2 separate regions of the Homo sapiens genome follow, and region 1 is linked to region 2. The links come from fine-mapping of genetic effects on gene expression. A gene starts in region 2. The other region holds a variant in brackets. All regions are shown on one strand. Distances are between the middles of the regions. Region 1 overlaps MAN2B2 (mannosidase alpha class 2B member 2). Region 2 holds the start of MAN2B2 (mannosidase alpha class 2B member 2).

Region 1 (4,511 bases), 44 kb after region 2:
ATCCAGTGGGGTTAGCAGGAAGGTTTTTCTTGCTGTGGCCACCACGCCCCCCGCTGATGGAGTTTGTATTGCAGCACGTGCTTCCTCACTCACCATGGCAAGAAAAAGCTTCTGCCGGGAAGTACTGCGTCACTTCAGCTCACTTTGCATTGGCCACAGAGGCCACGCAGCCTCCCCTGACTTCAAAGGGGGCAGGGTAGGAGAGACTGGAGTATTTGAGGACATGCCCCAATATGCCCACAACAGTGGACGAGGATGGAAACATTGCAGCTGGTGTCATGGTGGGCAGCCTTACAGTCGGCCAGACCTGGGTGGGAATCCTCCCTCTGCCGCGCACCAGCTGTATGCCTTGGGCACGTGACTGCCCCTCTCTGAGCCTTGGTTTCCTTGTCGAGTGGGGGCCATGTCAGCTGTCTCACATGGAGTCTATTAGTCTGTTCTCATGCTGCTCATAAAGACATACCCGAGACTGGGTAGTTTATGAAGAAAAAAGGTTTAATGGACTCACAGTTCCACCTGGATAGGGAGGCCTCACAATCATGGCAGAAGGCAAATGAGGAGCAAAGTCACGTCTTACATGGTGGCAGGCAAGAGAGCGTGTGCAGGGGAACTGCCCTTTACAAAATCATCAGGTCTCATGAGACTTATTCACTATCACAAGAACAGCACAGGAAAGACTCACCCCCATGATTCAATTACCTCCCACCAGGTCCCTCCCACAACATGTGGACATTATGGGAGCTACAATTCACGATGAGATTTGGTTGGGGACACAGCCAAACCATATCGAGGAGGTTACAGATAGGAAATGGAGCTGAGTGTGTAAAGCAGCGGGTATAGACCAGGGACATTGGGGTTGGTTGATGAGGGTCTTCACTGCCACCTTCCTTCTGTCCCCAAAGGCCATCGAGGGGAAGCCCAGGCTGACCTCCGCCGTGTCCTGCTGCGGCTCTACCACCTATATGAAGTGGGCGAGGACCCAGTCCTGTCTCAGCCAGTGACAGTGAATCTGGAGGTGAACTTCCCCACCCCCATCCAGACCATAAGCCAGGGAAGCAAACCCTAGATGAAGCCCCAAGAAACTGCCTTGGCAAAGAGATCCACGAGGGCTTCCTCCCAAATGGACGCTGGTATGGGCCCCACCCCGCCCTTCTTCATGGTCTTCTGGGTTTGTCAGGTATTACAACTGGCCTGGTTTTTTAGGGTTTTTTGTGTATATGTGAGACAGGATCTCACTCTGTTGCCCAGTCTGGGGTGCAGTGGCACAATCTCAGCTCACTGCAACCTCTGCCTCCCTGGCTCAAGTGATCCTCCCACCTCAACCTCCCAAGTAACTGGGATCACAGGGGCGCGCCACCACGATGGCTAAGTTTTTTTTTTTTTTTTTGAGACCGAGTTTCGCTCTCGTCCCCCAGGCTGGAGTGCAATGGTGCGCTCTCAGCTGGCTGCAACCTCCATCTCCCAGGTTCAAGTGATTCTCCTGCCTCAGCCTCCCGAGTAGCTGGGATTACAGGCATGTGCCACCACGCCCGGCTAATTTTTTTGTACTTTTAGTAGAGACAGGGTTTCTCCATGTTGGTCAGGCTGGTCACGAACCCCTGACTTCAGGTGATCCACCTGCCTCGGCCTCGCAAAGTGCTGGGATTACAGGCGTGAGCCACCAAGCCTGGCCTAGTTTTTTTATTTTTAGTAGAGACACGGTCTTGCTGTGTTGCTCAGGCTGGTCTCGAACGTCTGGCCTCAAGCAATCTGCCTGTCTTAGCCTCCTGAAGTGCTGGGATTACAGGCGTGAGTGGCCTGTATTTTCTTTCTTATTTATTCTGTGGTAAAACTTTTAAAACACAGACAACATCTGTGTAATCCAAAAACAAAACAGATTCCCCATAGAGTTGCTTTGAAAGGTGACTTAGAGTCAGACAATCCAGGGTCCACACCCAGGCCCCTCTACGGGGGCATCTCCGGCACCCCATGCCTCTGGGCCTCAGTTTCCCCCCATGTAAAATGGGGAGAGGTGAGAGTTCTTTGCCCAGAAGGTTGCTGAGAGGCCCTGGCACTAAGGGGCCTCGTGCAGTGTCAGGGCCCCCAGGCCTCGTCCCCTTCCAGGTTCCCCTCTTGGCTGATGTTGCCCTCTCAGCTCTACTATCAGGCGAGGCTTCCGCCACCTGGCCTGCCCACGCTCCCTCCCCAGAAGGCATGACCTGAGCCGCCTCATTTCTTTCCCAGTTTGCATTCTTTCTATTTCATTTCCTGCTCATGGAGAATTTCTGTGAATCTCTGTGTTTCTGCCTTGGGCCTCCTTCGACATCTGAGTCTTCAGGGGAATCCAGAGAAGCCCCAGTACCTTTTCGCCATGATGTCTTACTGGGCCACCCACCTCCTCTTTCATGATCCTCGCCA[C/G]GGAGGATCCTTTCCTCACGGTCCCTGGCCTGCCTGAGAGCAGGTCTAGGCCATGGCGGGTACCAGTGCCCAGCACAGGGCCAGCCTGCCCTGGGAAGCAAGGAGGCCAGCGTGGGACCTGGAAGTTGGTCATCTGATGCTCCCCCGTTTCACAGATGGAAGCACCAAGGCCCTGAGACAAGGAGACGGTTGGGATGGACACCATGACTCCCTGCCCAACGTGGACGGTGGTGGGGTGGAAAGACCATTGAGTTAGGAACGCAGTGAGTTTGGCTGCAAGTCACAAAACACCTAACAGATGTGCTTAGAACAGAGGACAGAGTGTTTTCTCACCGAACAGGCATGTCCGATGGACCCCAAGCGCTGTCACCGTGGGCCCGATCACTGTCATCTTCCCGCCATCGCCGGCAGACTGGCTTTTGTCTTTTGCCGTCTGCTTGTTTGCGGTCACAAGATGGCACAGGCCTCCCTCATGAGCAAATTTCAAGGCAGGGTAGGGCTCAGCAGTAGTGGCCAGAAAGGCCTTGCCCTAGCGTGGCTCTCTCCCTCCGTCAGCACACAGAAGCTTCTCCAAGAGCCACCCCCAGCCCTCCTGCTCCACAGACTTTTCCAGACCCCTAAGGGCCTCCTGCCTCCCCTAGGTGTAAGGGAGGCTGGGACAAGGCCTATTGGGAAAGGGGGATGGGGTAACTGTGGCTGGCTTCCTCCCTGGACTGGGCACGGGGCCACCTGAGCAATGTGGGGAGAGGAGAACTCCGCGGTGGGGTGGGCAGCTCAAAATGCCACACCTCCCGGGCTGCTCCTCCAGCTCGGCCACCTGGTAAAGCATGCACCTCCCGCTTCAGTGTCCTCATCTGTAAAGTACACGGCCAGTCCTGTCCTCGCAGATGTGCTGTGAGAAGCAGATGAGGGAGCTGTGTCAGGCACCAGGGGAGGACCTGGGCTCCTGAGGACACCGAGTTCGTGGTGTGTCTGCCCTGCTGCTGTCTTGGTTCTCTGCTCAGCTCTGGAACTTGGTGCAGCTCACTCTCCCTCTGCTCCTCTCCCTGCAGGCTGTGCTGCAGGCGCTGGGGTCCGTGGTGGCAGTGGAGGAGCGCTCGCTCACAGGGACCTGGGATTTGAGCATGCTGCACCGCTGGAGCTGGAGGACGGGGCCTGGCCGCCACAGAGGTTTGGGGACCCCCGCTTCAGCTCCCTACCCAGGACTCCCAGCCAGGCTCAGCAGCTGGTCAGACCCGGTGCACATCCAACCATCTGCCTGTCCCGGCCTGTGCGACCTTGCGAGGCTGCTTTCCTACTCTGAACCCGCAGCCCTCCCAAATCTACTACAGTCGGTTAAGAAAGGCTTTGGGTTAGTCTCTGCCTGCCAGGGCTCCACACAGGCGTGTGTGTGCACTTGTACGTGTGCACACGCAGACCACACGCCCTGCCTGTGCCCTGGGTGACAGCTAGGGGCCCAGGGGCTTCTGCCCACCTTGGCCCTGCTGACCTCAGCCCATCAGCCGGTCCCTGCCTCATACGACATGTGCCACCGTGAGCTCCTGCACTACAGGCAGCTTCCAGGCTCCACTCCCTGTCCGCACCATGCCCTCTGCCTGGGACGCACAGGTCCCATTCACTCTGGCCAGCACCTGCTCAAGCTCCCCAGGATGCCTCCCCAGAGTCACCAACCAGGCCAAGTGCCTCCTCCACTCTCCTGGCCCCAGGGGTTTCTTCTGTCCTGTGCAGCTCGTTGTCCACTACACACAGCATGGTGGCGGGTGCATGGTGCACGCTCAGTTGGTGGTGGGAGGAAGGAAGGGACGGAGGGAGGGAGGGAGGGAAGATGATGTTGGTTGGAAAGAAGGAAGGAAGATGGATGAGTGATAGATAAGTGGACGGCTCCCTCCCAAGATCGAAGCCCAACCCCAGGGCATGCCTTCAGGGGAGCCTGGTGAGGCAAGGGCAGACTCACCAGATGGTCTCAGAAAGCTCTTGGGCTTTGAGGGCAACACCCATGAGGAATTGAGGCCACTAGGGCCAGGACCAACCTATGAATTGCCCTCAGGGTGGGCAGAAACGCCAAGAGGCCCACAGGAGTCCTGGCAGAAGGGGATGCCATAGGCCGTTGCCAC
Region 2 (4,000 bases):
CTGGAGGCTTCATCTATGTAACAAGAACCTTAGCTTCCACATCCCCATTGTCTTAACTCAAGCATTTCTTTCTGCCGACTCCAACTCTTCAGGTAAAGCTTAACTCTTTTAACCAATTGCCAATCAGGAAATCTTTGAATCCTCCTCTGACCTGGAAGCACCACCCACCCACTTCAAGATGTCCCACCTTTCTGGGCCAAACCAATGTATACTTTACATATATTGATTCATGTCTTTGCCTGTAACTTCTGTCCCCATAAAATGTATAAAGCTATAGCCCAACCACCTTGGGCACCTGTTCTCAGGACCTCCTGAGGCTGTGTCACAGGCCATGGTCACTCCTATTTGGCTTAGAATAAACGTTCTGAGATATTTTAGAGTGTGGCTTTTCTCGTCAACCAAATTCTACAAAGAGCTTGGGGGGTGGGTAATGTTGTGGAGCCCATCTTTGGCAGATACAGTCTGCCAAAGATTGTGACACTGCCTTATCGATAAACTCAGTGGCTTAACACAATTAAAGCTTATTTCTCCCTCTTGTCACAGCTCTTTGGGTTCCTCATGGTTCCATGTGGTTCTTCAGAGCCTCCATTGGTGGCTCTAACCTCCCTGAGGTCCTCGGAGTGCCCTCCACTGGAGCAGTGGGTGAGTAAGAGAGCAGGGCTCACCCACAGGAGGTTGTTAGGGGCCAGCCTGGAAGAGGAGCACAGTGCCCGCCCCCACCCATCCCATTGACTAGCACTTAGCCACGTGGCCGCACCTGGTTGCAGAGGCTGGAGAGTGGAGCCCAGCTGTGAGCCTGGCCGGTCATGGGGACATGTGTTAGTGAGTACTGTCCACGTCAGGCTCAGACCATCTGACCTGAGGCTATGGGGATGCAGGGGTCCCCAGGGGGTGGACAGGACAGAAGGAGGAGGGAGACCTGCTTGGAGAACCTGTTCTCAGTTTCCATTTGTTACATAATGGACAAGAGGACCAGCACTTTTGCTCAGAGCTGCAGCTCTGGTTCCGCTAGGAAATGCCAGGCAGGGGCACAGCCAAGTGGTTCTCAGACAGTAAACCCCAAGCCACAGACCCTTGCTTTCTTGGGCAGGGAGTAGTGGACAGGGCTGACTCCAGGCAACAGTCCCAAACAGGCTGCACCAATGTGACCGCACCTCCCCTGAGTGCAGGCAAGGGGTGCTGTGCTCACGCTCTCAGCCTGGGTGCATCCTTACTTTGTTCACAGCTCCTCTATCGGACCCATTTCACTGAGGCTCAGCGAGGTTACCTATGTCGCCCCAGGTCACCATCCAGTAACCCAGAAAGCTTCTCTTGGCTCCTCCACTAACTGCGTGATCTTGGACAAGTCAGTTACTGTCTCTGAAAGCCAGTTCTCCTCCTTAAAATGGAGACAGTTGAGCCAGGCATGCTGGTTTATGCCTGTAATCCCAGCACTTTGAGAGGCGGAGGCAGGAGGATCGCTTGAGCTCAGGAGTTTGGGACCAGCCTGGGCAACATAGTGAGGCCCCCATCTCTATAAATTTTTTTTTTAATTAGCTGGGTGTGGCAGTGTGCCCCTGTGGTCCCAGCTACTCAGGAGGCTGAGGTGGGAGGATCACTTGGGCCCGGGAGGTCAAGGCTGCAGTGAGCCCTGATCGCGCCACTGCACTCCGGCCTGGGAGACAGAGTGAGATCCTGTCCAAAAAAAAAAAAAGGAGACAGTCCCATAACAAGCCCCCCATGGCGCCGCCCAGATGGGGTTTCGACGCCAGGGAGAGGAGGGAAAGGGTTATCAGGGAAGGTTCCTGGTGGCAGAGCTCACAGGGTCCGTGCTGAGCCGAATTTTGCACGGTAGCCTCAGAGTCCCGGAGCCGAGTCCAGAGGGCGGGATGCAGGTATTGCGAAGAGGCACACGCTCCGAGAGGAACCACCAGAGCGTGGGCTTTGGGCGAGGAGGGGTCTCCTCTGGTTGGGGGAGATCTGGCAGGCTTGGGGGAGATGGGGCTGAAAGGATGGACAGGGAGGGAAGGCCAGAAAGCTGGAGACGGGGATGGAGAGCTAAACCGCAAAGAGCAGGCGCCCTGCCCCGCTGAGGGCCCCGCGCCTCCAGCTCCTCCTTCCCGAGCTTCCCGGGGTCGGCGTCCAGCCGGCAACCAATGGGCCCCGCCCCCGCCCGCAGCCAATGGGCCGCGTCCCCGCCCGCGCGGCCGCCCCGCCCCTCGCGGACCCGGAAGTGGGCCTGGCACCTTCCCGGCCTGCCGCAGGGATGGGGCAGCTGTGCTGGCTGCCGCTGCTGGCACCGCTCCTGTTGCTGCGACCGCCAGGGGTCCAGTCCGCCGGCCCCATCCGGGCCTTCGTGGTGCCCCACAGCCACATGGACGTGGGCTGGGTCTACACTGTGCAGGTAGGTGCCGACCACGCCCCGCGCGCCCCTGAGGCTGCAGCTTCCCTCTCCCCGCGGGATCTGAGTGTGGGTTTGCGTCCCGGGGCCCGATGCCGGCGCAGAAGGAGGCTCAGTGGGTTCAGGACCCCACGCTGCCATTGACTGGTTGCGTCGCTAACTTCGGGCCAGTCACTTCCTGCCTCTGAACCCCCATTTCCCCTTCTGGAGGGTGGTGCAGATTGGAGGGACCCCTGCATTCCCGGCTGGGGAGGGGCTTGGGGGTTGACAGTGGTAACCCATTTTCCAGGGAAGCCTGGAGCAGGAGAGGGTGGGGCTGGCTTCAGAGCAGGTGGATGTCAGGTGCCCGCTGGGAAGGGGCCGGGCTGGTCCCCTGCGGGGCTGAATATTGGAGGCCAGCTCAGCGTCCTCCGCCCCCCAGGACAGGGGTGAAGGTGGACCTGTGGTCACCTCCTGGTTCTGCTCAGGACCTTGGGCGAGGGGCTTTGGTCCCTAAGCCTCAGTTTCCCCATCTGTAAAGGGTAGGGGAAGCATGCCCACTACAGCCAGTTTCCAGAGGAGAAAACCGAGGCCCAGAGAGGGTTGCTGCCTTGCCCAAGGTCGCTCGGGAATAACCCTCATGCCTCCTGACTCCCTGCTCGGTGCTCCTTCCATTCATGTAAGCACTCTGTGGGCACCCTGTGTGCAGGGCCCTCGGGACTCGGATGGGAACACACTACAGCTGTGGTCCTTGGAGCTCCCAGCCTTGGGGAGGCAGACGCCTAGACGCCAGGGACAGCCTGGGGAGCTCTTCCTCTCAGCACCAGCTTTCCTCATTTCAGCCCCAGCAGGCCCCTTTGGGGTCACTGGACCACACCCCGACTGAGGCCTAAGACTTTCCTGTGCTGCCCCTCAATGGCACACTCAGGGCCCAGCCCCCCAAATTGCACACTCAAGGCCCAGCTTGCTCACCCCTCTGAGAAACTGTCCCTGACCCCTGGGCTGGGAGGGCACCTGTCTCTGCCCATGTAGGGTGTCTGTTTCCCCGTCCCTCTCCCCCAGGAGAGCACGATCCCATCCAGTGGGGAGAGCCTGGTATGGAGCGAGTGCCTAATAGCTGTGTGGGGGGTGAGCAGCAGGGAAGGAAGGGCAGAGCCCCCAACCCCATGCAGACACACCTGGCGAATGGCAGGGGCCCCAGGGACACTTGGTCTTGTTGGACCGGGGCTGGCATGATGCTGTCCCCTCCCCAGGAAAGCATGCGGGCGTACGCCGCCAATGTCTACACCTCAGTGGTGGAAGAGCTGGCCCGCGGCCAGCAGCGCCGGTTCATCGCTGTGGAGCAGGAGTTTTTCCGGCTGTGGTGGGATGGCGTCGCCTCGGACCAGCAGAAATACCAGGTAATGAGGTCACCAGGTGACACAGTTGGCCCAGTATCCTGGCAAAGACCCAGGTGGAAAACTCAATGGGGCAGTTCTAGCCAGGGCCAGGGCCAGGCTGGCATAAACCACAGGGCCAAAACCCCACCGGGCTATTCACAGCCTTGTTTAGATCAAGGTTCACGGTGAGTTCCATGCCTGGGAGAGATTGCTTTCAATTTAATCCTGAATTTCTGTCTATTCTTGAAAAAACTGCCAGCTC

What was found. PIP is the estimated chance that this variant, and not a neighbour inherited with it, causes the effect.
Region 1: its variant is the best candidate, but not a certain one, in a credible set for the expression of MAN2B2 in lung (TOPMed, PIP 0.64).

What each region holds. Positions count from the first base shown.
Region 1 is chr4:6,616,478-6,620,988 of GRCh38, forward strand. It overlaps MAN2B2 (mannosidase alpha class 2B member 2), which reads left to right. Exons shown (of 19, transcript NM_015274.3): 17 at 903-1,015; 18 at 3,450-3,567. Among named protein-coding and RNA genes, the nearest start is that of MRFAP1, 22 kb to the right of the region's middle. The variant C/G (reference allele first, on the strand shown) is at 2,398.
Region 2 is chr4:6,572,966-6,576,965 of GRCh38, forward strand. It overlaps MAN2B2 (mannosidase alpha class 2B member 2), which reads left to right and starts at 2,224. Exons shown (of 19, transcript NM_015274.3): 1 at 2,224-2,383; 2 at 3,613-3,759. The coding sequence starts at 2,246. LOC105374365 (a long non-coding RNA gene) reads left to right here. Exons shown (of 3, transcript XR_925098.3): 2 at 544-642; 3 at 1,226-1,373. RefSeq lists enhancers at 420-1,188, 1,189-1,956, 1,957-2,725 and a silencer at 2,014-2,473.